6 separate regions of the Homo sapiens genome follow, and all the other regions are linked to region 1. Evidence: fine-mapped expression QTL. A gene starts in region 1. Each other region holds a variant in brackets. All regions are shown on one strand. Distances are from middle to middle. Region 1 holds the start of A1BG-AS1 (A1BG antisense RNA 1). Region 2 has its middle 8.2 kb from the start of ZNF586. Region 3 has its middle 11 kb from the start of ZNF132. Region 4 overlaps ZNF8 (zinc finger protein 8). Region 5 overlaps ERVK3-1 (endogenous retrovirus group K3 member 1). Region 6 holds the start of RPS5 (ribosomal protein S5).

Region 1 (5,071 bases):
AGGAAGGAAGAAAGAAAGAAGGAAAGAGAAAGAAAGAAAGAGGAAGGAAGGCAGGAAAGAAAAGAAAGAAAGTGAAAGAAAAGAGAAAACGGTGCTCCCAGCAAAGGGTACGACCTCAAGATCTGGAGGTCAGACCTGTGCCCTCACGCTCTGCTGGGCTCTGAGTCCTGGAGACGTCGATGAGGAAATCAGAGGGACAAACAGAGCTGGGGACGGCGGGGATGGGGAGAAGGACACATCAGCCGTGCGCCTGCGGGACCGGGGCCGGGGCGGGGGGTCCAGTATGACGACTGACATGGCCAGTAATAAAACAAGGCAGCCACAGAGCTGCAGGGATCTGAACAAGAAAACCTGGGGCCAGCCTCCCTGCTGCCGACCACCACGCTACACGTGACCTACGGGCTTGCGTCCGTGGGAAATAAGCCGAAATTCCAGGCGTCCCCAGACCCTCGACCACCGATCGCCTGCTCCCCGCCGGGGTAGGCGATGGGGGCTGAACCAAGGCCCAGAGCGCCGCCGTCGGACGCCCAAGGAAAGAGGGGAAAGACAGGAGGCCCCGAGGGGCACTGAACCCGCGCCCGCCCTCGCTGGTGCCCCGCCAGCTCACCGTCCACGTGCAGCTCCAAGCGCTCGCTGGGCGCGGAGCCCCCGAAAGGCGGCTTCAGGTCCACGTAGACGCAGCTGTAGTTGGCGGAGTCAGCCACGGAAATGTTGTGCAGCTCGAAGAGCGCCTCGGTCCCAGCGGGGCTCTGGAAACGGTGCACGCGGCGCCCGCCCCTGTCCTCGCGCACCAGGGCGAAGCGCGCGCCCTCCAGGGGCGCCAGGCACCGCAGCCGCAAGGCCCTGCCGGACTCCGGCTCCGGGGAGAACTCCGGCGCGGGCAGCGTCTCTGCGGAGCAGCACACGGGCTGACCCGGGCGCCCAGCGGCTGGCTCGGCCCTAACGCGTGGTCTGGCCTCGCGCTCTTTGCCTTGGCTGAGTCTTCTGCCCGCAATGACCTGGCCAGCTTCCTCCCTCGCCTCCTCCGGGCCCGCCCCACCTTTGCATCCCAGTCCTTGGATATCTCACACGCACCCTTTCACTGTTTCTTAGTAATTTGTTTGTCTACAGACACAGACGGGAAGCGGGGACGGGGACATGTTTTGTGCATGGCTTGATGCCTGGTGCACGATGCCGCTCAGTAGTGGATTTGCTCCACGAGCGTCTTCTGAGCACCGCCCCAATGCCCGCCCCACGGAGGGGCCCCTGTGGTCCGCTGGGCATGGGGTTCGCTGTCCGGTGCTCAGAGTTTGCTAAATACCATCAGGTCCAAGGCAAGCGAGCGGAGGAGCTGCCTCAGCAGAGGCCCTCAGTGCTCACCTAGACCTGGCAGCTGGGATGGGACCTGCCAGGTGGTGCCCCCTGTGGCCTGGGCCAGACCTGTTCACCCAGTTATTCCCTGTGGGGCCTGAAGGTTGTCACGCTCATCATCATATTTGCAGTTTAGGACCCTGAATCGGCGGGTGGGCGGATAAAGTTGGTATTGGACCCTGGCCCAGAGCACTGCACTTCCCCAGACTCTACACCTGGTACTGCTCCTGCTCCCCAGGGACCCAGCCGCGTCCCTGTCCCTGCTGGCCCCGGCTCACCATCGCTCAGAATCAGCTCGACCGGCGCGCTGTCCCCGGACCAGCCGTTTTGGTTGTCATGCAGCCGGTAGCGGCAGGTGTAGTGACCTCCATCCCCCAGGGCCACCGCGTTCAGGTGAAAGAAGATGCGATCTGGGCTGGTGCTGCTCCTGGGTACCAGCAGCTCTTTCTCCCCGCGCCGTAGCTGGAAGTCCACTCCACTCAGGGGAGCCACGCAGGTGAGGGTCACCTTGTTGCCAGGGTGCAGGACCTGGGAGGACTCTCCATGGTGCATCAGCACAGGCGGTGGTGGTGCAGCTGCAATGCAGGCAGCATTACTAGGCTGCCCCATCCCTGGAGCTGCCCTCTGCCCAGTCCCCAGACCTCTGCCCTCCGGGTGGCAATCCCAGGAACACCCTTCCATTCTTTTTTTTTTTTTTTTTTGAAACGGAGTTTCGCTCTTGTTGCCCAGGCTGGAGTGCAGTGGCGCCACTCAGCTCACTGCAAGCTCTGCCTCCCAGGTTCAAGGGATTCTCCTGCCTCAGCCTCCTGAGTAGCTGGTACTACAGGCACCTGCCACCACACCTGGCTAATTTTTGTATTTTTAGTAGAGACGGGGTTTCGTCATGTTGGGTAGACTGGTCTCGATCTCTTGACCTCATGATCCGCTGGCCTCAGCCTCCCAAAGTGCTGGGATTATAGGCGTGAGCCACCGCACCCGGCCTCACCCTTCCATTCTTTGGGCATCCTCTGCCCAAACTCCTTTGCAACCATCAGACCCAGGCAACCGTGTGGCCAGCTTCCTGGACCTGGTCCTGGGCAAGGACATTCAGCATGGAGGTCAGGATGAATGTGGTCATGCCCCCTGTATCCTCCTCCCCCAGCAGCCCCCAGAGATGGTTCCCACAGTCACCGAGCTCCTCAATGGTCACAGTAGCGCTGGGCTCAGAGAGGGCGCCTTCCCCATCGGTCCGGTAGCTGCAGCTGTAGTTGCCAGGCTGATGGACTGGAAAGGTGGCCTCCACATCCTCCTGGGCCTCAGGCACCTCCAGAAACTCATGGTCGCCCTCCCGCCTCAGCAGAAAAGTCACACCCCGCAGCACACCTCGGCACACTGCTGTTGTTTTCAGGCCGGGGGTGATCCAGGACACTGGCGCCATCGAGAGCCAGGGAGCAGGCAAGGACTCTGTGGGTGGGGTGGAGTTGAAGAGTGCTTCTGCATAACAGGAGACGTGGGAAGCCCAGCAGAACCTGGGCCCCACACTCATAAGACTGTGAAGGAGACAGGGATGGAGGGCATTGCTGGGAAAAGGCAGGCAGGCACCAGTGGAAACAAGGCATACGGCAAGAGAAAAAGAGTGTGTGGGAGCTGTACGGCATGCCGGGCCTGCTGGGGACACAACCATGTATTCCTTACAACACAGACATCATCCCCATTTGACAGATGGGAAGATTGGGGCTTGGGGCTCAGAGACATCGGGTGACTTGGAGGAAGGGAGACCCCCCAGTCAACAACCTACCCACTGCCTCCTGGCCCCCAATTCATGCCCCGGCTCACTTGGCCCTGTCAGCTCCAGGAGCTTGCTCAGCTGGGTCCATCCTGTGGACAAGCCCGAGCGGCAGCGGTAGCGGCCCTGGGTGTCACCCGTCAGCAGGAACTGGTGCTTGATGGCAGGTGAGTCAAGGTGCACAGGCTCCTGGGCCACCCCATTCTTGAACAGCTGGAAGTCTGGAGTCTCCAGGTGGGCCTGGCACGTCAGCGTCACATTGGCCAAGGGTTTCAGCAGTGATTCGGACTCTGCCCACAGGCTGGGCTGCGTCTCATAAACTGCAAGGGGTGGCTGGGATCAGCTCAGTGCCACAGAGACAGGGCTCCCCCCCGGCCTGGGCCCACCATTCCCAGACCTCACCCCTGCACTCACATATGGCTGCTTCTGTCACTGGGCCCCAGGTGACACCTGCGGAGACAGCCCCCGTAAGGCTCCTGTTCCCGCCCCCTCCCGCCCCAGGGACCCAGACCCCAGGAGGCCTCACCCCACAGCAAGAGAAAGACCACGAGCATGGACATGATGGTCGCGCTCACTCCGGTGCAGTGAGTGTCTGGGGTGAGCGTCTGCAGCAATGAGGCCCCAAGGGAGGGCGGTGGGGTGGCTCGGGCACTGACCTCTTCCCGTGTTTGTCCTTCCCGGAAGGCGGGGGCAGGGCCCCCATGGGGTCAGGGCAAAGGGTGAACTTCTGAGGCCTCAGGATGCCCAGCAACAATTATAATCAATAATCATGTATGATTAATAAACTAAATCAAGAGTGATAAAATGATGTTAAAACCACCTCATCCTCATTTCAGTGATGGATCCTAGAACCTGTTCTAGAAGGAGACGCTGAGTTCTCCCCACTCTACCTGGAGCTGCTGAGGTCAAGTGGAGAGTGCCGGGGCTGAAGCCCAGCGAGCCCCTCCCTGTCACACCACACTGCACATGTGACACCAAAGGTGGGGTTCACCTCTTTTCAGACTTTCTGCGGTTGCCCTCACATGGGCTGTCTGGAGGTGCACCCTCACTCTTCCTGAGGACTGTGGTTCCTTCTCCATCACTGGTTCATTCTGCATGGTGTGACCCACCACGGCTCTGGAGTCGGATTTCCACCCAGGTCATTCAGCTGAGACCTGCGCTTCCCAGGCCTACCCGTGACATGTGCTCAGTTACCTGAGCTGCTGGTGGTCACTCATGTGGCTATAGCCTGCTGCCTGGAGGCCAGGCCTCCCGCTTCCCCTGCCTCCCCCTCTCCTCACCACAGCCTGTTGGGATGGAACAGGACAGGGGTGAGACCGTGGTGCTTTCACACTCAGCCTCCATGGACATCCTGTCATTCCCACCCGGGGAGGTCTGGTCCCCACCCTGGGTGTCCCAGCCTAGCTCCGCTACGAGTGTGAGGGCCCAGGGCAACCGCCTAGCCCTCATCTGCCCCCTGCACTGCATCCTCCCCACTCATTCATTCCACAGGCATTTATTGAGCATCTACTGTGTGCCAGATGCAAAGAAGACAGTGGGATAACTGGGCAAGGAGCATTCCAGGCAGAGGGAACAGCCAGTGCAAACATGGGAGATGCGGGTGCAGTGAGAAGGAGCAGAGGAGACCAGGAGTTGAGGCGACTGCAGAGCGATTGCAGAGCTCATAGACGTGATGAAGACCAGCTGGGCACTGCAGCGGCTCTGGCTTCTGCTGTGAGGGACGGGGAGCTGTGGAGACTCCCTCTGTTTGGTCCCATTTCCATATTGCTGAGCACCTGCTGCATGCTCTCTGTCCTGCTCAGAGCCAGTACCTGGATGGAGGCTGTGTGTTCTGGGTGGACTGGGGGAGAATGCATTCTTTGCAGAAGAGACAACCAGGTGCTGAGGCCTGAAGTCATAACCAGACCTGGGGCACTCAGACAAGGACTGGTGGCCAGGCCAGAGGAGCAGAGCTCA
Region 2 (5,071 bases), 590 kb before region 1:
TGGGTGCCAGTTCACCTGCAGTAGAACACCAGATAGATTCCTAAGGTTTCCCACTACAGGCTCTGGCTCGCAGATGGCTTTTCTGAATGTGCCTAGGATGGGGAGGAGCTTGCCACTCTGAAGGGAAGGACATAAACCTCGCTGGTTTTGCCCCCTGCTGATTGTAGAGTCCTAGGGCCTTGAACAAACAGGGAGTAGCCAGGAAGTGGTCAGTATGAGCCTTGGGCAGCACCCAGTTCTCTGCTGGCTACAGGTCTGACCCCACATAGTCCCATTGGTGGTGGCACAGGGGTACTTGTGTTACTGCTCCTCCAGCTAAAGGCAGCTCAGCACAAAGAAACTTTGGAAACCTGCCAGCAGGAGACTCAATGACCCCCATGAACACTTGAGCTGGCAGGGAGAGCTGCTTAGAGAAGTGGTAGGGACAGAACTCCAGCCAGTGCAGAGCCCAGAGGATTTGGGGTGGGAGCATCTCTAGTGGAGCACAGCTAGACACGCCCATATTTCAAGGTTCGCCTTGCTTCCCTAACAGACTTTAGCCCTAGGGAAGTCAGACCTGATCAGTGCAGGGCGTTCTTGCCGATAAGTTGGGGATGGTTGGACCTGAGCACCTCTTGGTCAGCTGGCCTCTCCCAGGGCTCCAGGCTACCCACACCTGCTTGCAGTGCGACCTCGGTTGCCCAGGTGGGGTCCCTTATGGGGGTGTACATCATAGCTCCTGTGCTGGTGAACTGCAGTTGATAAATCCCATAGTCGTGCAACAGCCCACCTGCACCTTCCCAAAACTGCGGCCTCTCTGAGACACTTTGCCTGCATGCATTCACCTATGGCCACCCCCGACGTTGCTTTGCCAGCATATGTGCATGCAAGTGGACCTTGCCTTCTCTTTTCCACCAGCATGCGTGTGCATGTGCACCCTGTCATGCTACAGCTGCCAGTGTGAGCACACCTCATCCCCCCAACTTTTCGCTGCACCACCATTGCTGTCAGAGCATTTGCGATCCCAGAGACTGCCAGCCCGCACCTGCCAGCACCCCACCCCTGGACCAGCACAAAACTACACAGACGAGCAGACACACTCCACTCACCAGTATCAGCTGCTACCCACGTGAATGCATGCACAGAGGGTACAAACAGTCCTGCACCTGCCAGCACCTTGCCTCCATATTAACTCCACTGCTGGTGTGAATGTGTACTGGGACATCAATGGAACCCCCTTCCCTACCCCCCCATGTTGTGCTGCCACCACCAGCACTGTGAACACTCACGTGGAGGCTGGCACCCCTACACCCACCAGCACTCCATCGCAGCCAATAAACGTACACCCCACCACTGCCATTGCTGCTGGCATGTGGGAACAAGGATGGATCCTGCTGCCACCACCCTAAGCACTGGGGCTGGCACTGCCCTTCAGAGTGTTGTTACCAATAGTCTGGGAACAACTTGACCCTCCAGCATGGCAGGTTTCTGACCTCCAGGGATCATAGGACAAAGCTGGATGCCTGATACCAGGCCCCGTGTATTAGAGCACACAGTCTAGTAGTCCTGAGCTGAGCCTTGGACCCCTAAAATGCTCCAGAAATTAAGACAGTTGACTGGAGCCACATTATACCACAAACTCTTAAGGGCACCAAAAAGGATAAAAGAAAAAGAAGTCCATCCAAAGTTCAGCAACTTCAAAGATTGAAGAAATATCAGCCAACAAAGATGAGAAAGAACCAGGGCAAGAACTCTGGTAACCGAAAAAGCCAGAGTGTCTTCTTACTTCAAAACAACCACACTAGTTCCCCAGCAGTAGTTCCTAACCAGACTGAGATGGCTGAAATAACATAAATAAAATCCAAAATATGGATAGGAATCAAGATCATTGACATACAGGAGAAAGTCAAAAACTAATCCAAGGAATCTATTGATTACAATAAAATAATACAGGAGCTGATAGACAAAATGGCCTTTATAAGAAAGAACCAGACTGACTTAATAGAGCTGAAAAATGCTCTACAAGAATTTCATAATGCAATCACAAGAATTAACCGCACTGTGGGAGGCCAAGGTGAGCAGATCGGTTGAGGCCAGGAGGTTGAGACCAGCCTGACCAACATGGCAAAACCCTGTCTCTACTAAAAAAATAATAATAATACAAAAAATTAGCCAGTTGTGGTGGTATGTGCCTGTAGTCCCAGCTGTTTGGGAGGCTGAGGCATGAGAATTGCTTGAACCCAGGAGGCAGAGGTTGCAGTAAACCGAGATTGCACCACTGAACTCCAGCCTGGGTGACAGAGTGAGATTCCGTCTCAAAAATAAAAATCAAAAAAAGAGAGAATGCTGAATATGGGATCCAGTCTCTTTTGTCTTGTAGGATTTCTACTGACAGGTCTGCTGTTAGCCTGACAGGGTTCCCTTTATAGGTGACCTGTCCCTTCTATCTAGCTGCCTTTAATATTTTCTGTTTCATTTCGACCTGGAAGGATCTGATGACTATGTGTCTCAGGGATGGTCTTCTTTGTAGTATTTTGCAGGGGTTCTCTGCATTTCCTGAATTTTAATGTTGGCCTCCCTAGCGAGGTCGGAGAAATTTTCATGAGTGATATCCTGAAATATGTTTTCCAAGTTGCTTGGTTTCTCTCCCTGTCTCTCAGGCATGCCAAAGAGTCATAGGCCACTTTATATAATCCCATATTTCTTGAAGGTTTTCTTCTGTGTTGTTTTTTCTTTTCTTTTCTTTTTTTTATTTTGAGACTGAGTCTTGCTCTTGTCGCCCAGGCTGGAGTGCAATGGCGCAACCTCGGCT[C/T]ACTGCAACCTCTGCCTCCCTGGTTCAAGCAATTCTCCGGCCTCAGCCTCCCGAGTAGCTAGGATTACAGGCGCCTGCCACCACGCCCAGCTAATTTTTGTATTTTTAGTAGAGATGGGGTTTCGCCATGTTGGCCAGGCTGGTCTCAAACTCCTGACCTCTTGATCTGTCCGCCTTGGCCTCCCAAAGTGCTGGAATTACAGATGTGAGCGACCGCACCAGGCCTGTTTTTTATTTTCCCTGAGTTGTTTCAGAGAGCCGGCCTTCATGCTCTGAGATTTTTTCCTCAACTTGGTCAATTCTTGTTTTTTTTTTTTTTCTTTTTTTTTTTTTTTGAGATGGTGTCTCACTCTATCGCCCAGGCTGGAGTGCAGCGGTGTGATCTCAGCTCACTGCAAGCTCCACCTCCCGGGTTCATGCCATTCTCCTGCCTCAGCCTCCCGAGTAGCTGGGACTACAGGCGCCTGCCACCACGCTTGGCTAATTTTTTTGTATTTTTAGTAGAGACAGGGTTTCACCATGTTAGGCAGGATGGTCTTGAACTCCTGACCTTGTGATCCACCTGCCTTGGTCTCCCAAAGTGCTGGGATTACAGGCATGAACCAATGCGCCCGGCTCAACTTGGTCAATTCTGTTAATTCTTTTTTTTTTTTCTTTTTTTTGAGACAAAGTCCCACTCGTGAGGTCTGGATCAAGACCGCTTTTCGGGTGACAGTGTCAATTGTCTACAGACTTAGGGAAAATTTTAATGGCCACACCAGTACAGATACAGGTGGCTCCAAATAAACCACTTCCCAATATTAAACAGTATTCATTGAAGCAGGAAGCTATAAGCTGGGTACGGTGTTGCACACCTGTAGTTTTAGCCTCTGTAAGCAGACAGGGAGGATCTCCATGGATTATAGGAATATAATCAACTTGAGCAATTACCCTGTTTTACAGCCTCCTCCCCTTCTGCCTGTACCTCTCCAAACCATGGTTTGAATGCAGTCACCTTGTTGGGCTAAAACAGCTCCTGACAGACCCCAAGCAGTGTAGATGAACCCAAGTTAACTTTCCTTATTAACATGCTGAAGTCTCCACTCTGGAAGGAGCTATAGCTTCATTACCATAACATGCTTTCTATGTGCTGGTATGACTCACTGCATCTGTGCAACTGGGACCCCAATTCTACATGCACTGATGCACCTTCTCCCATCACCATTATACCATAAAACTCTCCTGTTACTTGTCCTCAGGGAGACACTGCTTTGGAGAATACTCCCAGTGTCCTCTTTACTTGAGCCAAGTAATAAAAGTATTGATCAATACCTGTGTTCTCTGGCCGGGCGAGGTGGCTCGTGCCTGTAATCCCAGCACTTTGGGAGGCTGAGGCGGATGGATCACCTGAGGTGAGGAGTTCAAGAGCAGCCTGGCCAACATAGTGAAACCTTGCCTCTACTAAAAATACAAAAATTAACTGGGCATGATGGTGGGTGCCTGTAATCCCAGCTACTCCAAAAGCTGAGGCAGGAGATTCACTTCAACTGGGGAGGCGGAGGTTGCAGCGAGCCAAGATCCCGCCATTGCACTCCAGCCTGGGTGACAAGAGTGAAACTCCGTCTCAAAACAAACAAACAAACAAACAAAAACCTGTGTTCTCATGGAAAGTCATTTGTTATGCACCAGGTGAATGAACCTGGTATTTTTCAGGTAACACTACTCAGGATGCTGAGGCAGGAGGATCCCTTGAGCCCAGGAATTTGAAGCCACCCTGGGCAACATAGGGAGACATCATCTCAAAACAAGAAGCTATAATAGGAATAAAACAAATAACCAAAGATTACCTTGAAAAGGGATTGATTATCCCTTCCACCAGTCCTAATAGTCCCATCTTCCTGACACAAAACCTCACAGGAAAGGATGAAGATTTATACAAGATTTGAGAACTATTAATACTACTGTGATTCGGCCGGGCGCAGTGGCTCACACCTGTAATCCCAACACTTTGGGAGGCCGAGGCGAGCAGATCACGAGGTCAGGAGATCGAGACCATCCTGGCTAACACGGTGAAACCCCGTCTCTACTAAAAATAGAAAAAAAATTAGCCAGGTGTGGTGGCGGGTACCTGTAGTCCCAGCTACTCGGGAGGCTGAGGCAGGAGAATGGTGTGAACCTGGGAGGCGGAGCTTGCAGTGAGCTGAGATCACTCCACTGCACTCCAGCCTGGGCAACAGAGTGAGACTCTGTCTCAAAAAAAAAAAAAATACTACTGTGATTCCTCATCAACCAGTAGTTCTA
Region 3 (5,071 bases), 77 kb after region 1:
AGTGATTCCCACTGTCGGTGTAAAGGGCTTCATATTGATGGAGAGTTTTCTGTGTTGTCAGAAGTTCTGGTGGACACTGTGAGACAGATTTCATGGATTTATAGATGAGACAGCTGAAGCTTGGGAGTCTGTGCCCCAGATCGCACAATTTATTAGCAGTAGGAGTCCAAGTTGAGCCAAGCCAGAGAAGGTTACTGAGTGTTTTGGCACCCTTGGCCTTAATCTGCTGCTCTTCAGATTTCACAGCCCCCATGTTCCAGATAGTTCACTCAAAGCTTGGGAGTTGGAGATGAGGGAATCAACAGATGCTGACACTAGCATGAAGGAGAGGTATAGCTGATCTGGAGGTATGATTGGGAGAGGTTGAGAAGCCTTTCAAGGGTGTCCCTGATGTGGGAGGGCACAAGCAAAGGCCCAGGGGCAAGGAACTGCCCAGTAGATTCCAGAAGAGAACTACCATTGCATACAGCAGAGTGTACAATAACAGGGTAGTCAGTACACTGCATCAAGGGGCTGAAGGCAACTGCCTTTTGGTTTGAGCATAGTCTGAAAGCAGTGGAGCCACTGAATCCCACAAAAGCTGGTAACCTGGACAGCTCAAAAGTCACAGCCATCAGGACTTTGCCTGGAATATTCTGGCATTATTGGCAAACATCTATCTTCCCCTAACAGGTTGGCTGCTGTATACTGAGACCCAGTCGGAGATCAGAAGGCAGGTTCAGTAGAAACACGTAGGACTCTACTCATGTATTAGGAATCTTTTTTTTTTCCTTTTTTATTTTTATTTTTTATTATTTTTTTGAGACGGAGTTTCACTCTTGTTGCCCAGGCTGGAGTGCAATGGCGTGATCTCAGCTCACTGCAACCTCTGCCTCCCAGGCTCAAGCAATTCTCCTGCCTCCTGAGTAGCTGGGATTACACGCATGCGCCACCATGCCTGGCTTTTTTCTTTCTTTCTTTCTTTCTTTCTTTCTTTCTTTCTTTCTTTCTTTCTTTCTCTTTCCTTTCTTTCTTTCTTTCTTTCTTTCTTTCTTTCTTTCTTTCTTTCTTTCTTTCTTTCCTTCCTTCCTTCCTTCCTTCCTTCCTTCCTTCCTTCCTTTCCTTTCCCTTCCTTCCTTCCTTCCTTCCTTCCTTCCTTCCTTCCTTCCTTTCTTTCTTTTTCTTTCTTTCTTTCTTTCTTTCTTTTCTTGTAGAGATGGGATTTCTCCATGTTGGTCAGGCTGGTCTCAAAGTCCCAACCTCAGGTGATCCGCCCGCATTGGCCTCCCAAAGTGCTGGGATTACATGCGTGAGCTACCGCGCCCAGCCTTTTTTTTTTCCTGTTTTAGAGACAAGGTCTCATTATGTTGCCCAGGCTGGAGTGCAGTGGTGCAAACATAGCTCACTGCAGTCTTGAACTCCTGGGATCCAGTGATCCTCCTGCCTCAAGTAGCTGGAAACAGGCATGCCACAATCATGCCCAGCACCATCTTATGAGATCTAATCTTGGCCACTCACACAGAGGATTGAGCTCTGATGACGTGTCTACCCTAACTTTATTTGCTTAGAAGGCTGAGCCCCATATGGCTCAGCTAACCTTTAATTCTGATCCCACATGTGTCTTACATATTGGAGACATTAGCATCTTCCATATTGGAGACATTACACTCAGGAAGGAAGGCCTGAGTAGGGTAGGTATCCCCCAGACACCTCACTGTGCTGGGGAGTATTTGAGAAGCCCTGCTGTAAACTTTGCTGACGGCAAAACTGTTGTGGCTTCTGCTCACAATGTGGTTATCATTGTCCATCCCCTCAGGGGCTTCCAGGAGACGTGGCAGCTGCAGTGGCCTCTGATCCATCATACAGTATGGATGGACACCACAGGCCAAAGATTCTCATGTCAGAGGATTTCCGGTCTTTTCTCCCCTAGGCCTCAGGAGGACCCAGGGAAATATCTAAAGCCAACCTATAGTTTTGGTGAACTGAGTTTGCATTGAAATGTTTTTGGAAATGATTTTCAACATTTATAAAATCACATGCCACATAGAAATCTGAATATTTGGCTCTTCTTGGAAAACCAGGAGATATGGGAAATCTGTACTGACTCCACCATATTGTCTCCCCACCCCTTAAGAGGGACAGACCTGCTTGGTGGCCACCAGAAGTGGAATTATGAAGGCCACGGCCATATGATTCTCAAGAAACCCTGGCTACTCACATAAGCCACTCCAGACCATGATTTCTGTCTTCTCTGTCTTGAGGTGCCTACCTGTGCAGTGATGGCCATGAGATGAACAGCCCAGGGAGTCCACAGGAAATCCACAAAATATTTATTTGAATTTCAGTTATGAGTGACACATAGGTCTGCATGTCCTGAGAAGTTCTGTACACCCTTATCTCACTTGGCCATAGTCATTGGAAGTTTCTGATGTGCGTTTAGAACAGACATGTCCCCTCTTGTCTACCACAGTCTTCTCCACACTTAGAGTTTTTGTACCAATGATAGTTCCCACATAGCCCTGGCAGGTCTGAACCAGTTATGCCTGCCTACTGAGTTTTATATTTCATGAGTCATGAGCCATGGGCAGGTACTGGGGGATGTAGCTGGTAAAGTGGGACATGCATTGGGAACAGAGGACCAAACTTTTGCTGTGGAGGTTCTCAAAGAAACTACCCCATTCTTCAGAGCTAGCTCTGGGCCCACAGGTGACCCTTGGTGTCCAGATCACAAGATTCAGTCCAAGCCTGTCAGTCTTTCATAGGAGGCCTTAGGGCAACAAGACAAATTCAACCAAAACTGGACTGAGCACTCTTCCTGCCCATG[C/T]GGCTGTTTGAGACACTCAGTGCCCCCTTACAAAAGCTGTTCTTTTTATATTAGGATGAATTGTTTCAAACCACCTCACCAACTCTGATGCAGGTGGCTAAACATTAAGGCCTTTGTTATCTCAGAGAGAGACAGGCAGATCCAGGAGTGAGTGATTGAGACTAAACAGATCATTCCTAAGTGTCACATGTAGATGCAAACAATGTCCATGAAGAGAAACCTTTTCTTCTATTTTAGATGGAGTCTCACACTGTCGCCCAGGCTGGAGTGCAGTGGCACGATCTCGGCTCACTGCACACCCTGCCTCCCAGGTTCACACCATTCTCCTGCCTCAGCCTCCTAAGTAGCTGGGACTACAGGCACCCGCCACCACACCTGGCTAATTTTTTGTATTTTTAGTAGAGGTGGGTTTTCACCATGTTAGCCAGGATGGTCTCGATCTCCTGACCTCATGATCTGCCTGCCTCAGCTTCCCAAAGTGCTGGGATTATAGGCATGAGCCACTGTGCCCGGCCAAGAAACCTTTTCTGGAAAGCTCCAGAAGACACCAGCTCAGATCTTAGCAAGAATTGTCATACCAAAATCTAAAGCCATCAGTGGGAAAGAAAATGAAGGTACTCAAAGCCTATGTAATTCTCTCTAGAGAATGGAAAAGGGAGTATAGTCTGCTTTCCCTTAGCACAGTGAGGGAGACTGATACATATCATGAGATCTTGCCAGGTGGCAGAGATGAGACAGTATGGCAGGCAGCTTTGGACATGGCTTCCAATGATCTCTGCCCTCTGGTATTCATGCTCTTGTGTAATGCTCTCCCCTTGACTGTGGGCTGGACCAAGTGACTTGCTTCTAACTAAATTTAGCAAAGATGATGGGATCTCACTTCTGTTATTAGGTTACAAATGACTGACTTGTTGGTATTCTCCACTGCATGATCAGCTTGCAAGCTTTGATTGACAAGCTGCCATTTTGGAGAGGCCCATGTGGCAGAGAACTGGAGGAGGTCTCAGACCAACAGACGGGTCCTCAGTCCAGCAGCCCACAAAAAACTGAATGCTGCCAATTACATGAGTTTGCTTGGAAGCAGAGCCTTCCCTAGTCAAGCCTTCAGATGATACACCCCCAGCTGACATCTTGATGTTAGCCTTGTGAGAAACCCTAAAGAGGAGTCAGCTAGCTGCACCAAAGTTCCTGACCTATAGAGACTGTGAAATAGTGACTATTGTTTTAAGCCACTAGGTTTTGAGTAATTTGTTACACAGCAATAGGTAACTAATACAGATGGCTTCTGCAATAGCAGTAATACAGTGCCGCCTAAGATTCTGGGAGCTGTGGCTTTCCCACATTTGTTGCCCATAACTCTCTTGTGAATTCTCTGGTGATTTTTCTTAAAAGGGGGTGTCTATAGCTGAAGGCTTTCCCATTTTCACTGCATTTGTAATGCCTTTTTCCCATAGGTACTTTATATAGCTTTCTCACATAGGAGAGGTGACTGAAGACCATCCCACATTCCTTAGATGCAGGGGTTTTCTCTACTGTGAATTTTTTGGTTATAGATAAGAATCGATTTCTTCTTGAGGGTCTTTCTTCATACCAAGTATTTAAAGATCTCTCTTCAGTGTGGGTTCTTAGGTGGTTGAAGAGGGCAAAAGTCTTCATGTCTTCCCATAGCCACTGCTCTTGAAGGGCTTCTCCCTATCATGGCCTGCCCGGTGTTATCTGATGTTAGAGCTGTGTGGCAGCATCTTCTCACTCAGCTCTTCTTCATGGCTTCCCTGTGCCATGAGTACTCTGGTGATGGAGAAAGGAAGGCCTTTCCACATTCTCTTTTGAGCTTCTCATTATTCTGGTACTCCAGTGCTGGAAGGGGGTAGTTACCCTGGAAAGCCTTCACAAATGCCTGGCCCTTGAGTCCTCTCACTTATGAATTTTGCTGTGCATGAACTGAAAAGTGCTCTTACTGTGAGCCATGTCACATCTGAAAAGGTGGTCTTCACCATAAATGGTCTACTGTTGGTGAAGGTTTGATCCACTCCCTTGTGTGGGGTTTCTACCTGGAGTACACTGCCTAACGTTCAGCCAGGAGTACAATCTTTGGCAGGGCAAGGGTGCCATGGTCAGGGTGAGGAACGACCAGTCATGGAGTACTGGTCCTGTCACATATCCCACTACTGAGCCTGTTAGGTGACATTCACATAGGCAGGGAGAACAGAGAGGGATCTAGGACAGATGTGGAAGCAGCAGTGGCTACTGAAACTGCTGTTCAGTGAT
Region 4 (5,071 bases), 54 kb before region 1:
CCTTCCAAAGTAGTGACTAACTCTTGGAAAAGTTTTTAACAACATAATATGCTATTGCATTTCTGGGAAATTCTGGGTAAATTCCAAGCATGCAGCAATTAGTTTGTGCTTATGTGTGAAGTCCAGTTAGGTTCTCAGTTCATACCCTGAAAACTGCTTATTCCACATCTGTTGATGTGGTCCACTGGGGGCAGTTCTGTTCCTCACCATCTTGGCAGCATGCATGGCTCCTGCCCACATTTCAACCACACCCCCAACCCAATTACGTGACCAGCCCCCACGAAATTTCACAGCATTCCGTGCAGGGGAGTGTCACAGCTCCTCTTGAAAAACATCTGGTGTTGCTATGAGCCAGAAGTTCTTTTTTTTGTTTTTTGTCTGAGATGGAGTCTCGCTCCGTCACCCAGGCTGGAGTGCAATGGCGCAGTCTGCTCACCACAACCTCCGCCTCCCAGGTTAAAGCAATTCTCCTGCCTTAGTCCCCCGAGTAGCTGGGATTACACGCACCTGCCACCACGCCCAGCTAATTTTTGTATTTTTGGTAGAAATGGGGTGTTGGCCAGGCTGATCTCAAACTCCTGACCTCGTGATCCACCCACCTCGGCCTCCCAAAGTGCTGGGTTTACAGGCATGAGCCACTATGCCCAGCTGAGCCAGAGGTTCTTAACTGGTGGTGCTTTTGCCTCCAGGGCACATTTGGTGACATCTAGGGACATTTTTGGTTGCTGTGCCTGGAGGAAGGGTGCCGCCGTCATGTAGTGGGTAGAGGCCAGGGACGCTGCTCAACATCCTTTAGTGCCCGGGACAGCTCCTCAACAAAGGATTCTCTAGCTCAAATGTCAATAGTGCCAAGGTGGAGAAGCCACCTGGGTATAAACCCAGCCCAGAAATGTAGCTGACATTTTTAAAACTTGCAGCCAGCTGTGGTGGCTCACGCTTGTGATCCCAGCACTGTGGGAGGCTGAGGAGGGCGGATCCTTTGAGGTCAGGAGTTTGAGACTAGCCTGGGCCCATGGCGAAACCCCATCTCTACTAAAAATACACAAATTAGCCAAGTGTGGTGACATGCGCCTGTAATTCTAGCTACCTGGGGGAGGCTGAGGCACGAGAATCGCTTGAACCTGGGAGGCAGAGGTTTCAGTGAACCGAGATTGCACCACTGCACTCCAGCCTGGGTGACAGAGCAAGACTCTGTCTCAGAAAAAAAAAAGAAAAGAAAAAAAACCTTCAAATTGATTAATCAGGGCTGGACTAGACTAGAAATCATATAAGCTTGATTTTAACAGATGGCATCATTAGCTAGTTTATACATGATGTACTTTTTAGTACATCCTTTACGGTTTTGCAGCATTCATAATTGATGTGAAATAAGGAAGATAATCCTTTTTTTTTTTTTGAGACAGAGTCTCACTCTTTTGCCCAGGCTGGAGTCAGTGTTGTAATCACTGCTCACTTGGCAGCCTCGACCTCCTGGGCTCAAGTGATCCTCCCACCCCAGCCTCCCAAGTAGCTGGGACCACAGGCATGTGCCACCATTCCTGATTTTTTTTATTTTTTGCAGAGACAGGGTCTCACTGTGTTGCCTAGGCTGGTCTCGAACCTTGGCGTCCCAAAGTGTTGAGATTATAGGCATGAGCCACTGTGCCCAGCCACTTATTTTTCTGAGTAACCTTTAAGGATGTATTGTGGACATTTTCAAACATGAGTCATATATTTTTGCTGGTACTCCCATCTACCTCCCCACCATTCTCCTTCCCTGGATATATATATAACCATGTTTGTCCACTGGGACAAAACCATTTTCACAATCATACTAAGCTGTCATTTCACATTTTTGCTGTGCACTGATAGTGTGAAAGCAATGGCAGGTAAAACTGCTGAGCCTGAGTTCAAAGCAGGGCAGTAGCCCTGAGGTTGGTTGTTCATATT[C/T]TTCTCCACTGGGAAATGCAGTAAAGAAAAAGAAAAGCTAATTTCACTTAATTTCTTTTCTTTTCTTTTTTTTTTTTTTCTTTTGAGACGGAGTCTCGCTCTGTCGCCCAGGCTGGAGTGCAATGGCGTGATCTCGGCTCACTGCAACCTCCACCTCCACGGTTCACGCCATTCTCCTGCCTCAGCCTCCCGAGTAGCTGGGACTACAGGTGTGCGCCATCTTGCCCAGCTACTTTTTTGTATTTTTAGTAGAGATGGGGTTTCACCATGTTAGACAGGATGGTGTCGATCTTCTGACCTCATAATCCGCCCACCTCGGCCTCCCAAAGTGCTGGGATTACAGGCATGAGCCACTGCGCCTGGCCCTCTTTTTCTTTTTGAGATGGAGTATTGCTCTGTCGCCCAGGCTGGAGTGCAGTGGCACAATCTTGGCTCACTGCAACCTCCGCCTCCCGGGTTCAAGCAGTTCTCATGCTTCAGCCCTCTAAGTAGCTGGGATGACAGGTGTGCGCTACCACACCCGGCTAATTTTTGTATTTTTAGTAGAGATGGGGTTTTACCATGTTGGCCAGGCTGGTCTCAAACTCATGACCTCAAGTAATCTGCCCGCCTCAGTCTCCCAAAATGCTGGCATTACAGGCATGAGCCACCGTGCCTGGCCTACTTTCACTGAATTTCTGTGATGAAACGGGAAAAATTAATTTTGTTAAATCTCAAGTAGAACTATATTGTCATTATCACATCTAAACAGATATCATCAAATACCTAGTGTTCAGATGTTCTGGGTTGCCTCATAAATTTTGTTTTCTATTTGTTTCATAGTAATCATAATCTAAACAAGATCCACACAGTGCATTTGGTTGGAATTTTTCTTTTTTCTTTTTCTTTTTTTTTTTTGTGATGGAGACTTGCTCTGTCACGTGGTTCACTGCAACCTCCCAGGTTCAAGCAATTCTCCTGCCTCAGCCGCCCCTGTAGCTGGGACTGCAGGCATGCACCACCACACTCAGCAGATTTCTTAATTGTTTGTAGAGATGGGGTTTTACTACATTGCCTAGGCCAGTTTCAAACTGGGCTCAAGCGATCCTCCCACCTTGGCCATCCAAAGTGCTAGGATTACAGGTGTGAGCCAATGCACCCTGCCAAACAGCAATTTTTTTTTTTTTTGAGACAGAGTCTCGCTGTGTCACCCAGGCTGGAGTGCAGTGGTGCGATCTCGGCTCACTGCAAGCTCCGCCTCCCAGGTTCATGCCATTCTCCTGCCTCAGCCTCCCGAGTAGCTGGGACTACAGGCGCCCGCCACCACGCCCGGCAAATTTTTTGCGTTTTTAGTAGAGACGGGGTTTCACCCTGTTAGCCAGGATGGTCTCAATCTCCTGACCTCGTGATCCACCTGCCTCGGCCTCCCAAAGTGCTGGGGTTACAGGAGTGAGCCACCGCGCCTGGCCCCAAAACAGCAATTTGAATAACCATGTTGGAATGGTTGAGCATTGGAACGCATTAGCATCAGAACTTCCCGTGTCAGGCCAGGCGCGGTGGCTCACGCCTGTAATCCCAGCACTTTCGGAGGCCGAGATGGGCAGATCACGAGGTCAGGAGATCGAGACCAGCCTGGCTAACACGGTGAAACCCTGTCTCTACTAAAAATACAAAAAATTAGCCTGGCGTGGTGGCGGGCGCCTGTAGTCCCAGCTACTCGGGAGGCTGAGGCGGGAGAATGGCGTGAACCTGGGAGGCAGAGCTTGCAGTGAGCTGAGATAGTGCCTCTGCACTCCAGCCTGGGTGACAGAGCTAGACTCCATCTCGAAAAAAATAAAAGAACTTCCCGTGTCCGTTTTTGCTTTTTGGATGCTGGGAGTGTCACAACTCAGCTATCCAATCAAGGCAGAGCTGGCCTCCAGGATGCCAGAGCCAGAGCTTTGTGGTTCATCTCTAGAGGTTCAACAGGACCCTGTGGATGGCCCAAGTTCGTTTCTCTGCACTTACCTCTTCGGGGTTGTCCTCAAAACGTTGCCGTGTCAGCTCTCACTTTTCACAGCAACTCTGGCCTCCTACCTTGGACTGCGCCACTTCTGTCTCCTTAGATAACCTCCATTCGCATAGCTAAATGCTGCACCCTCCGACACTGCCACAATAATAGTTCTGTGAGTTAGTACCATTTTATAGATAGGCAAAATTTGGCACAGGACAAAAGTTAGTGGTAACTAGAACAAAAGTAACCAGCCCAAGCTAGGAAGTGGTGGAGTTAGAATTTGATGTCAGCACCCAGCTGACCATGGCTTAAACAGATGAGGCTTTGTTCAAAGGCTGTCTTTTCAGTGGCTCAGCTGTGTCACAGTCGATGTTTTCTGCAATCTCTCAACCTTTCCATTGTGGTCATGAGGAGACTCCTATGGCTCCAGCCATTGCATCCACAGTGAAGACTGAAAGAAGGGGGAATGGGCAGGCCAACACTTACCGCTGATGGTGTTTAAAGGAAAAACATTCCCAGAAGCCTGCAGCACATGCCCCCCTTAGTCTCACTGGCCACAGATGGGTCAGGGGGCCACCCCTAATAACAACGGGGCTTAGAAACCTCGTATTTACCTTTCTAACCTCTGTGGTGGAGACAGGTGGGAGAGAAAAGTCCTGGGAAGTGGATGATGGAGGCAGCTAGCCGTAGCTGCTGCTTTTCTCTTCAAGCTCTTGGGAGAATTGCTTGTGCTCCCTATTCCCTTGGTGGATGATGGAGGCAGCTAGCCGTATCTGCTGCTTTTCTCCTTCAAGCTCTTGGGAGAATCGCTTGTGCTCCCTATTCCCTTGGTGGCAGCTCACACCTCAGACCTGCTGTCCGCCCCCACTGCTTCACAGAACCCACTGCAACCACTGTCCAAGGTACTACCTCTGGTGTCGTCTCTCTTCATCCCCAGGACTGTGAAGCCTGCTAACCTCTTTGCAGAGCTCCATCTCCTTGCATTGTGGGGTTCCTTCTAACTCTTCAGGGACTTCTCAACCTCCCGTCACCCTTCCTAAATGCTGGGGTCCTAGAGTCCACCTTGTGCTCCACGCCCTCCCCAGGTGTCATCTACATCCCTAGCTTTGTGCTGCTCACCACCAAATCAGTCTGGTGCTTCTGAGATTTGGGCTTCAGACCCAAACAACT
Region 5 (5,071 bases), 33 kb before region 1:
GGCTCAGAGAGAAAACCAAGAATGTTACAAAGGTACCTATCTAACAAGAGAAAAACATGTCCATACATTTTATTAATAAAATCCAAAACTTTGTTAAATGTAATTCATTCCTTAATGAGCAAAAAGCTTTTCACAGGAGGTTCCATTTTATAGATAGGAAACAGACCCCAAGGGAGGTGAGCAGCCCAGAATTACAGCAGAGAGTGGTGAAGATTTGATCCTAGATCTGACAGCCTCTACCATCATACTTGCCATTCTCAGCTTAGGAATAAGATGGGGAGGAAGGTGTGGGTAATGGGCAAATCAGGGCCCAAATAGTCTGTTCAGTACTCTTGTCTCGTGGGAAGGAACAAAAGGCCCCACATCTGCCCTTCCTCCTGGGAGTCTCTGTTAGGACCTGAATTCAGTACAGCAGGAATGATCAATTTTTCTCTTTAGAGCACTCACCCACTTGACATCTCACTTTGTTCTCACATAGTCCTCATAGAGGTATCCTGTGGCTGCTGTCCTTGAAGCCTGATAGCATGGAGCTGAGGCCTCAGACTATAACAGGGCACATAATTTTCATGAAGTTCAAGAAGAGGCTGGGCTGGGCGCGGTGGCTCATGCCTGTAGTCCTAGCACTTTGGGAGGCCAAGGAGGGTAGATCACCTGAGGTCAGGAATTCGAGACCAGCCTGGCTGACGTGGCAAAACCCTGTCTCTACTAAAAATACAAAAATTATCCTGGCATGGTGGCAGGTGCCTATAATCCCAGCTACTCGGGAGGCTGAGGCAGGAGAAGCGCTTGAATCCGGGGGGCAGAGCTTCCAATGAGCCAAGATTGCACTATTTCACCCCAGCCTGGACAAAAGAGGAAAACTACGTCTTAAAAAAAAAAAAAAAAAATTAGGCTGGGACACCTTTCCTGGAAGGGCTACTTACTACAGGGGAGCTGTCTAAGGTGCTGAAATGTCCTAGCCCTGCGCTGTCCAATATGGTAGTTATGATTAAATTCAAATAAAATTACAAGTTCCATGTCCCAGTCACACCAGCTATGTTTCCAGTACTCAGGAGCTACCTGACACTGATGGTGCCATATTGGACAGCACAACTCCAGAACTTTTCCATCCTCACAGAACATTCTAGAATTTAATTTGAATGCTAGTTACACAGGGCTGTGCATTTACCAAATTCACTAAGCTGAGCACTTGTAATTCTGTAAAACATGTATATGTATTTTTGAAAGCACAAAGTTTCACGTCCCCGCCTGCCAGTCACTTTACCAAACAACCTTTGGTTTAACTTCTCTGTGCCCCAGTTTCCCAACCTGTAAAAGAGAGTAATGATACCTCCCCTTTGATTGGTTGAGAGTACCACCAAAGGTGTTTGCTGGGTGGCCTGACCTGCAGGAGGTGCTCAGGAAAGGGGAGCTGCTGCTGTCATTTGGTGGAAGTGGGTCCCCTTATCTGGCTAGCAGATGCCTTGAGTTATGGTGAGTATGATGGGGACAGACTCCCAGGAGGATGGAATGGCATCACTCTGTGGAAAGACTGTGAAACAGAACACGAACACCTCATGGCATCTTTGCTGCCTAGAGCCATGCCACTTGCACACCCTCCTTCTGCTCCTGACTCCCAGGAAGGCAAGGGGGTCACTGGGCTTGGGGCTCCACAGAAAGAGGCTTCCTGATTTGATGCTTAAGAGCTGTGCCTCAGACGCCTGCCTCTAAAACAGAAAGCCGTCCACACAGACACCCCACCTCATCTGGGTACCTCCTCTGGACCTAGGCTGGGTCCCCACAGGCAGCCACAGCCATCTATGCTGCTGCCCCCACACTGCCTCTGGCTGTGGGCTTCTCGAGGGCTTGCTGTGTGATGCTGAGTTCCTTAACGTGGAGACAATGTGTTGGAGTGTGGCAGTGTTCAGGCCCTGCTAGCCAAATAAGGGGACCCACTTCCACCAAATGACAGCAGCAGCTCCCCTTTCCTGAGCACCTCCTGCAGGTCAGGCTGCTCAGCAAACACCTTTGATGGTACTCTCAACCAATCAAAGGGGAGCTATCATCATTACCCTCTTTTACAGGTTGGGAAACTGGGGCACAGAAAAGTTAAACCAAAGGTTGTTTGGTAAGTGACTGGCAGGCAGAGATGTGAAACTTTGTGCTTTCAAAAATACATGTATATTTTTTACAGACGTACATGTGCTCAGCTTAGTGAGGAAACTAGGAAACAGGCCCAGAGCTGGGATATGGTCAGTCAGTGGCATGAAGAGCCGAGAGTGGAGCCTGGCAGGAATTTCCAGCTGGCATCCATTTGTTACTGAATATCAGGGCACTCCCCCAGAGACACAAGCCACCCCTAACCACATTCTGGAAAACGATCTCACGTGTGTTTCCGTCCTAGATCAGGGGTGCTCCTGCCAAGGAGAGGGTGTATGTGGGGAGGCCTGCAGCTGTTTCCCAGACCTTAATCAGCCACAAGGAGTCCACGCTGGGGAGGGTGTACTGCCATGTAGTGGGTGGGAAGATACCTTTGGCAAGAACACGTGCCTTGTGAGCTATCAGCAGATTCCCAACAAAAGGAGACCCTGTACGTGCGAAGAGTGTGGCAAGGCCTTTGGACAGA[G/C]AAGTCACCTTGTTCAGCACACCAGTGAGAAGCTGTATGCATGCCAGGAATGTGGGTGTACCTTCAGCAACAATTCATCTCTAGTCAAGCACTGGCACGTCCACACAGGCGAGAAGCCCTACATGTGTGGCCACTGTGGCAAGTGCTTCCGAGAGAGCTCATCCCTTGCCAAGCACCAGCGTGTGCACACAGGTGAGAAGCCATACGTGTGTGGTGAGTGTGGACGCACCTTCAGCGAGAGCACACACCTTGTACAGCACTGGTGATTCCACACCGGGGAAAAGCCATTTGCCTGCCAAGAGCAGCAAAGCCTTTGCTGACTTCTCGGCCCTCCTTGCATGCCACGGAACCTACACGGGTGAGAGGCCCTACGAGTGCCGGGTATGCTGCAAGGCATTCAGCCCCAGCTTGTCCCTGGCTGAGCACATACGCTGCCACACGGGAGAGAAGCTGTATGCGTGTCAGGAATGTGGGAAAGCTTTCAGCCACAGCTCATCCCTCAGCAAGCACCAGCAGGTACACACAGGTGAGTGGCCCTATGTGTGTGCAGAATGTGGAAAGGCCTTCAGCCAGGGGTCCTACCTGACCCAGCACCTCAAGATCCACAGCGGTGAGAAGCCGTACATACGTGGTGAGTAAAGGAAGCCATTCGGTGACTCCTCAGCCCTGGTCCTACACCAGCGGGTGCACACAGGCGAGCATCCTTATGCATGTGGAAAATGTGGGAAGACTTTCAGCCACAGCAAGTTTCTCACCCAGCATGAGCAAGTCCGCATGGGAGAGAAGCCCTTCATGTGTGGTGACTGTGGAAGAGCCTTCATGCAAACCTCATCCCTCGCCCTCCATCAGAGGACTCACAATGGGGAGAAGCCCTACAAGTGGAATGAGTGTGGCAAGTCCTGCATCCAGATGTCACACCTCACCGAGTATTACCAGGTACACGCTGGGGAACGACCCTTTCAGCCGTGGCACACACCTCACGCAGCACCAGCATGTGCATGCATGTACCAAGCCATTCATATGCCATATATGTCAGAAAACCTTCCAGGAGGCCACAACTCTTGTACTACATGAGAGGATTCCCTGGAGAGAAGCCCTTTTGAGTGTTGTGAGTGTGGCAAAGCCTTCCGCCAAAGCAGATTCCTGGCCCAGCACCAGAGAATTCATTCCCAGGGAAAACCATGTGAATACATGGATATCAGAAAGCCCTCAGTGACGCTTTGGTTCTTGTATGTCAGTGAACTGGGCATGTGCCAAATATGGCAGAGATCTTCCCATCTATCCTTGGTGTGTTGTCCTTTGCACCGGGGTGGCAGGTGAAGAGGGACTGTGAGTGTGAGGAAATCAGGGTCAGTGTGAGAAGCCCCTATTATACATTTCTCCCTTCAGGGTCACCGGGGCGGGTGAGGAAGCTGGGAGTGGGCCTAGGATATGTCTTTCAGATGTCACATGGAGATACTTCTCCATAATTATCAAGGGGCACAATGGCCACTTCCACTTTAATTAGATTCCCATGGATGCTAACCAAGTGGTAGGAGGTACACAGGTATGAACAGGTTTCCTCTCAGCAGTCCTAGAAGACTTTATTTCAGTTTTTGCCAAGACAAAAATGAAATTTAAAAAATGTGGGTTTTTTTGTTTTTTGTTTTTTTGTTTTTTTGAGACGGAGTCTTGCTTTGTCGCCCAGGCTAGAGTGCAGTGGCGCAATCTCGGCTCACTGCCAACCTCCGCCTCCTGGGTTCAAGTGATTCTCCTGCCTCATCCTCCCGAGTAGCTGGGATTACAGGCCCCCGCCACCAAACCCAGCTTTTTGTATTTTTAGTAGAGATGGGGTTTCACCATCTTGGCCAGGCTGATCTTGAACTCCTGACCTCGTGATCCACCCACCTCGGCCTCCCAAAGTGTTGGGATTACAGGCATGAGCCACTGCGCCCGCCCAAAAAAATACATATTTTTAAAAGATGCTTTTGCAGTTGTTTGTGCCTTGTATTAAGGTAGACCATATAGTTTGGGGTTTTATTGCCCAGAACCAAAAAGGTAAAATTTATATGCTGAAGTGTGTGTCACAGAGTCTAGCTCTTTAAGAAGAAAATTTTGTGTGTTCCTCAGCTTCAGCATGAGGACGTCACTAAAACTAGTTGAGACAGTGATGATGTTCGTTAAGATTTTACTGAGCACTTTAGAAGCACTTTAAGTAGATTGTCCCATTCCATCCTCTTAGCCGGCCTGGGATGTATTTTTATTCCCACTTCATACATCAGGGAGCTGAGACTTTGAGAGGTTAAATCACTTGCCCAGTGCCCCTAGCTAAAAGGCACTCACTTTTCAGGACGAAAATACTTGAGTTAATGGATAAGGCCAAGGTGGCAGAAGTATTTCCTTCCCTTTTACCAATGCCCAGAGGTATTTACTGGAATTCTAGAACTGAGGAGGCAGTTCTAGAATATAAAGTCCTATTGAGCATGG
Region 6 (5,066 bases), 33 kb after region 1:
CCGCCTCCCAGGTTCAAGCAGTTCTCTGCCTCAGCCTCCCGAGTAGCTGGGATTATAGGTGCCCACGACCTCGCCCGGCTAATTTTTGTATTTTTAGTAGAGATGGGGTTTCACCATCTTGGCCAGGCTGGTCTTGAATTCCTGACCTCATGATCCACCCGCCTCGGCCTCACAAAGTGCTGGGATTCAGGCATGAGCCACTGCACCCGGCCTGACACAAGTAGGATTTCTCACACCTGTGGATGCACTGCTACTGGAGGAGTCTTGAGCCTATGTGGAAGAACTTCCCACTCCCAGGCACAGAAAGGGCCTCCCTCTGGAGTGAAGATTCTGGTGGTACCACAGGCCTGGCCACCACACAAAGGCCTTGTCCCTGCAGGGCTGGCATGGGGTGACTGGCAGCCCTGGAGTGGAGTTTGAAGCACCAATGAAAGGCCTAACCACTTGGCAGGCACAGGTGCGGGGGACTTGTCTGGAGGGGACCGGCTATGGGGGCTGTGACAGTCTGTAGGCTTTCTTCACTTCTACACAAGCCTGTTGTCTAAGTGGACCCTGCAGGGTTCATGCAGGGGCAGCACCAGAGAAGCATCTTGTGACAATGGTTACACAGGAGCGATTTCAGGAATGAGACTGAATCAGGCAAGGACCTGGAGAGGAAGCTCCAGTGGGGCTCCCACCCAAGGGGTCCAACTTTACCAATCCCACAGGTCCCCAGTCTGGGGCTCATTCTATGTCTGTAGGCCTGGGACCCTGCACCCAGGAGAGTTGTCCTGCTACCGGCCATCCCTCCGCAGAGGTCCCCCTCTGGCTCTATGCTGTCTTCAGCAAAGGGCCTCTGCTCCATTTCACACCTCTCCTGAGGGCCTGGGGTAGCTTACTGCGAAGCAGCCTCAGGGAATAGAGGCTTCAGCAGGGCATCTTGGCCCCCAACACAGAATCCTGGTTGTAGGATCTGGAAGAACAGAGGAGAAATGGAAGTTGGCAGTTCCCAGGAGGGGAGAAGGTGCTGGTGAGCCACGAAAGCAAACCCCAGTGGCTGAAGCATCCTGGATGACTCGGCCACATTTCCTTAAGAATCTTTGTGTGTGTGTGTGTGTGAGACGGAGTCCCATTCTGTCACCCAGGCTGGAGTGAAGTGGTGCGATCTTGGCTCACTGCAACCTCCACCGCCCAGGTTCAAGTGATTCTCTTGCTTCAGCCTCCCGAGTAGCTGAGACTACAAGCGCCCGCCACCACGCCTGGCTAATTTTTTTGTATTTTTAGTAGAGATGGGGTTTCACTGTGTTAGCCAAGATGGTCTCGATCTCCTGACCTCGTGATGTGCCCGCCTCGGCCTCCCAAAGTGCTGGGATTACAGGCATGAGCCACCATGCCCGGCCCTCTTCTGTCTCTTATAAGGACACTTGTCATTGGATTTAGGGTCCACCCTACTAATCCTAGATGCTCTCATCTTGGGATCCTTGACTAAATTACATCTGCAAAGATTTTTTTCCAATAGGTCACATTCGCTGGGTCTGGGTATTAGGGCATGAACTTACCTTTTTGGGGGCCACCATTCAATCCATTACAGGTGGGCATCCCATAGAAGCAGACAGTGGCTAGGCCAAAGTAGCCCATGAAGTATCAGCCATGGGCACAAGATCAAGTTTGGGATGCGGCAGGGCCAGGCTTGGCTCTGCCAGGCAACTGGGTGGACTGAATCCAGCACACTCCAAACGAGTTGATAATCAGGCTGGGGACTTCAACAGACAACCAAGGTGCCAGTAAAGGCATTAAGGAGCTATCACGGCCAGGTGCGGTGGCTCACACCTGTAATCCCAGCACTTTGGGAGGCCGAGGCAGGCGGATCACGAGGTTAGGAGATCGAGACCATCCTGGCTAACAGTGAAACCCCATCTCTACTAAAAATACAAAAAAAATAGCCGGGCGTGGTGGCGGGCGCCTGTAGTCCCAGCTACTCGGGAGGCTGAGGCAGGAGAATGGCATGAACCCAGGAGGCGGAGCTTGCAGTGAGCCAAGATTGCGCCACTGCACTCCAGCCTGGGCAACAGAGTGAGACTCCGTCACAAAAAAAAAAAAGGAGCCATCACAAGGATGTAAGATCAGCTAACAGTAAGACTGTGGCTGGTAGGGTGGACAGGCAAAGTGACTGCCTGGAGAGTGGGCAGGTGGCCCAGCAGGGCCCAGAGGGTGCCTTCCCAGAAGTGAGGAGTCCAGTCTGGGGCCGGCCACTCAGGATGGACACAATGTACCAGAAGTGAGGTAGATCTCTGCAGAGTCTCTGGGGTCCTCATCCAGTCTGAAGAACACAGCACCAGCAGCCCTAGATCTATGAGGTCAGACTCTGCATCTTATC[G/C]TAGCACCTTGGGGACCTGGGGAGGCTGGACCACCCTGGACCTGGTGGCGGGGGTGGGGGGTGCATGAGTCTCGGCTCTGCAGTATTCACCACGCCACACTTGAGGGCACCTGCCCTCTGCAGCACGATGAGTCATTCTCATGAGGTCTGTAAAGATGTCCATTATCAAATGACCATGGTAGCCAGGCCACAGGGTTCACATTGACGTTGCCTCATTGCATTCTCATTTCCACACTGAAGGGGAAAACAGGTTCAGAGGGGTGGGCTCACTGTCCTGATGAGTGCTGCCTGTTTTCTCCCACCCTCCCTACAACCAGCACCCCCATGCCCCTCACTCAAGACCAGGGAGAAGCCCACCTAGCCCCTCCTGCAACCACACAGACCCCAGTGGGAGCCCCAAGGCTGCTACTCTGCACAGGATGGAGGGCAGGGGTAAAGGCCATTAGGCGGTGGCAGTAGGCCGTGCCCCTCACCAGAGGCTGAGGTCTGACCCCTTGACCAGCCCAGCTTCAGGGCATGTGTCCTTTCATGAGCTGTGACTGACCACAGTCCAAGGGCCCACTGTGGGGAGTCCTCAGCATATTTGGACAGAAACGCCCCAGAATTGGGGTAAGAAGAGCCTTTACAGTCAGGCAGTGAAGAAACACAGCTGCTGGGCACCTGCTATGTGCACGCCTCAGGGATGGGAGTAGGGGGCAGGCCCAGCCCTGGGACCTGGGTCAGGTGGCTGGGCCCTTCGGATCCCGAGTTGGAGGGATAACCCCTTGGAGGCAGAGATGGGCATCAGAGACAGGGCGGCCCCAGGTGGTCCTGGAGTCGCCTCGTAAAGGTTATGTCTATGCCTGCTGCAGGCAGAGACACAGTCAAAGTAGTTGCTACCTCTGGAAAGTCCCAGTTCTGCTCATGAGCCTAGATCTAAGAGGCTGGGACAGGCAGAGGGGTATGAAGGGGTCATGGGCAGGCAGACTGTCCACACTGGCTGCCAGGGTGGCCAAGTGAGTAGAGTGAGCTGGGGCACTCACTACCGTGCCAACCCCACGCACGGATGAGGACCCCGGGTCGAAGGCCCACATCCTCAATCCCACGCAATAGTTCAGGCCCTGTGAGAGGGTTCGCTGTCTGCTCCCAGCCAGGGCTGAGCTGTTCAGAGGCCCTACCTGTTCAGAGGCAGCTGGGGGAAGGGACAGAAGTTGGGGGGCAGGGGATTGTGTGCTGGCGGGAATAATCTCCTTCATCTCATGGCTAAATCTTCCATCCCTCCTTTCAACCTTTGGCCAGAAACCTACGTTTCTGACCCTTGGAGAGGTCGGCCAGTTCAAGAGGCACCCCTGAGAGCCACGTCTGCAGACACGAGGGCCTCGTGACGTGAGCCCTGAGGGCAGGGGGCTGCAACCCCTCGCGCGGGCTCCCCGGCCGTGGAGGACACAAGGACAAACACGAAGGGTCCCCGACCTGCCGACCCCCTCCTCCCGGACACCGCGCGTAGCCTGTAGGCTACCTCCGCGCTCCACCCAGAGACGGGTCGCGCTGCTCCCGCCGCCGCAACCCCGGGCCCTCGTGCCGGCGGTCTCCCCTCTTCCACGGGCGAGATTACTGCATAGCAGAGGTGAAGGGCGCGGAGGCTGTGGGGGAACCCAGCGTGGTATGGCAGGAAAGGTCGAGCAGGGAAACAGGCCCAGCCAGAGGCTCGGGATCCGGGGCTCGCGAGCGTGGTGCTCCTGGGCCGGGCGGTGGGGGAGGGGCCGCGTGTGGCAGGCACATGCGCACGGCAACCTGGACCTGCGGAGGGCGGCGGTGACCACTGGGCCTCACTCCGCTAACCCAGGTCCGCATCAGGCGCGTGCCGGTGAGGCGGCTGTGGCCGCGGCGAGGAGTCAGAGGGAACTGAACTGGCTACTCCCGCGGCAGGTGGGATTTAAGGTCAGCAGCTGAACAAAGAAGCGAGCGCTGGCCAGACTTTTTTCTTTATTAGACATGGCTGCGTTGGTCTCACGGAAATCTCTGCGCTTTTGCAGGCGCCCACAAGACAGGGCAACTACGGGGTAGCGGACATCCGCCAGGCACGCTTCTAGGGCCGCTTCTGCAACTGCGCATGCGCTTGGGCTGCACCCATTCCGTCTAGCCCAAAAGGTTCCTCTACAACCTTCCTCCGGATTGGTCTATAGGGACACGATGGCCTTTTACGCAAGCGTCACCCGTGCTGACCCGGAAGTTTTCTTCCCAGTTAAAAGTGTTGGCCCGCGGCGCGCGGCCTCTTCCTGTCTGTACCAGGGCGGCGCGTGGTCTACGCCGAGTGACAGAGACGCTCAGGCTGTGTTCTCAGGTGAGACCGCCGCGGGGCCGGGGATCCTAGGGACGGTTCATGGTCTTTCGGGGATAGTGCCCCGCGGCCTGGGCCTTTTCTCATTAGGTCTCATTTCTGTCTCTGGAAAAGAAAATGTAGAAGAAACGGGCGCGGGCCGAGTTACTCTTGACTTCTTTCTGGTGCTCCGCCGCTTCTAGCTTTTCCCCATAGCGGGGCTTGGGGAACTTGGTTTGAACTATGCGGTTGTACTCTGAGATAGGAAGTTTCCATTTCTTAGGGACACGATGCCCTCTTTTGCTCTGTGTAACTTTCCCCCCGTAATAGCAGCCCCTAGAGCCTTCATACTGTCGGTCAAGAATCGAAACCTTTGGGTTGATTGTGCCACACGGTACCTACCGTGGTCCT

The links.
Region 2: its variant is fine-mapped to the expression of A1BG-AS1 in atrial appendage (GTEx, PIP 0.96).
Region 3: its variant is fine-mapped to the expression of A1BG-AS1 in whole blood (TOPMed, PIP above 0.99).
Region 4: its variant is fine-mapped to the expression of A1BG-AS1 in whole blood (TOPMed, PIP 0.95).
Region 5: its variant is fine-mapped to the expression of A1BG-AS1 in lung (GTEx, PIP 0.98).
Region 6: its variant is fine-mapped to the expression of A1BG-AS1 in whole blood (TOPMed, PIP 0.97).

What each region holds. Positions count from the first base shown.
Region 1 is chr19:58,349,763-58,354,833 of GRCh38, forward strand. It overlaps A1BG-AS1 (A1BG antisense RNA 1), which reads left to right and starts at 2,208. Exons shown (of 4, transcript NR_015380.2): 1 at 2,208-3,282; 2 at 3,617-3,712; 3 at 3,952-4,095; 4 at 4,607-5,071. It overlaps A1BG (alpha-1-B glycoprotein), which reads right to left and starts at 3,730. Exons shown (of 8, transcript NM_130786.4): 1 at 3,642-3,730; 2 at 3,530-3,565; 3 at 3,166-3,435; 4 at 2,521-2,793; 5 at 1,629-1,925; 6 at 608-889. The coding sequence starts at 3,675. ZNF497 (zinc finger protein 497) reads right to left here. Exons shown (of 3, transcript NM_198458.3): 3 at 4,595-5,071.
Region 2 is chr19:57,758,927-57,763,997 of GRCh38, forward strand. No RefSeq gene overlaps it. Among named protein-coding and RNA genes, the nearest start is that of ZNF586, 8.2 kb to the right of the region's middle. The variant C/T (reference allele first, on the strand shown) is at 2,792.
Region 3 is chr19:58,426,347-58,431,417 of GRCh38, forward strand. It overlaps a transcript of ZNF324B not described here. Among named protein-coding and RNA genes, the nearest start is that of ZNF132, 11 kb to the right of the region's middle. The variant C/T (reference allele first, on the strand shown) is at 2,804.
Region 4 is chr19:58,296,035-58,301,105 of GRCh38, forward strand. It overlaps ZNF8 (zinc finger protein 8), which reads left to right. Exons shown (of 4, transcript NM_021089.3): 4 at 1-5,071. The region is part of intron 4 of ZNF8-ERVK3-1 (ZNF8-ERVK3-1 readthrough (NMD candidate)); the gene reads left to right. Among named protein-coding and RNA genes, the nearest start is that of ERVK3-1, 6.8 kb to the right of the region's middle. The variant C/T (reference allele first, on the strand shown) is at 1,930.
Region 5 is chr19:58,316,715-58,321,785 of GRCh38, forward strand. ERVK3-1 (endogenous retrovirus group K3 member 1) reads left to right here. Exons shown (of 4, transcript NM_001396080.1): 4 at 1-98. All of the region lies in intron 2 of LOC105372480 (a long non-coding RNA gene), which reads right to left. It also overlaps the pseudogene LOC100887072. Among named protein-coding and RNA genes, the nearest start is that of ZSCAN22, 7.7 kb to the right of the region's middle. The variant G/C (reference allele first, on the strand shown) is at 2,606.
Region 6 is chr19:58,382,661-58,387,726 of GRCh38, forward strand. RPS5 (ribosomal protein S5) reads left to right here and starts at 4,609. Exons shown (of 6, transcript NM_001009.4): 1 at 4,609-4,679. It overlaps MIR4754 (microRNA 4754), which reads right to left and starts at 4,198; the gene lies at 4,110-4,198. RefSeq lists enhancers at 3,010-3,229, 3,250-3,319, 4,382-4,676, 4,870-4,919. The variant G/C (reference allele first, on the strand shown) is at 2,357.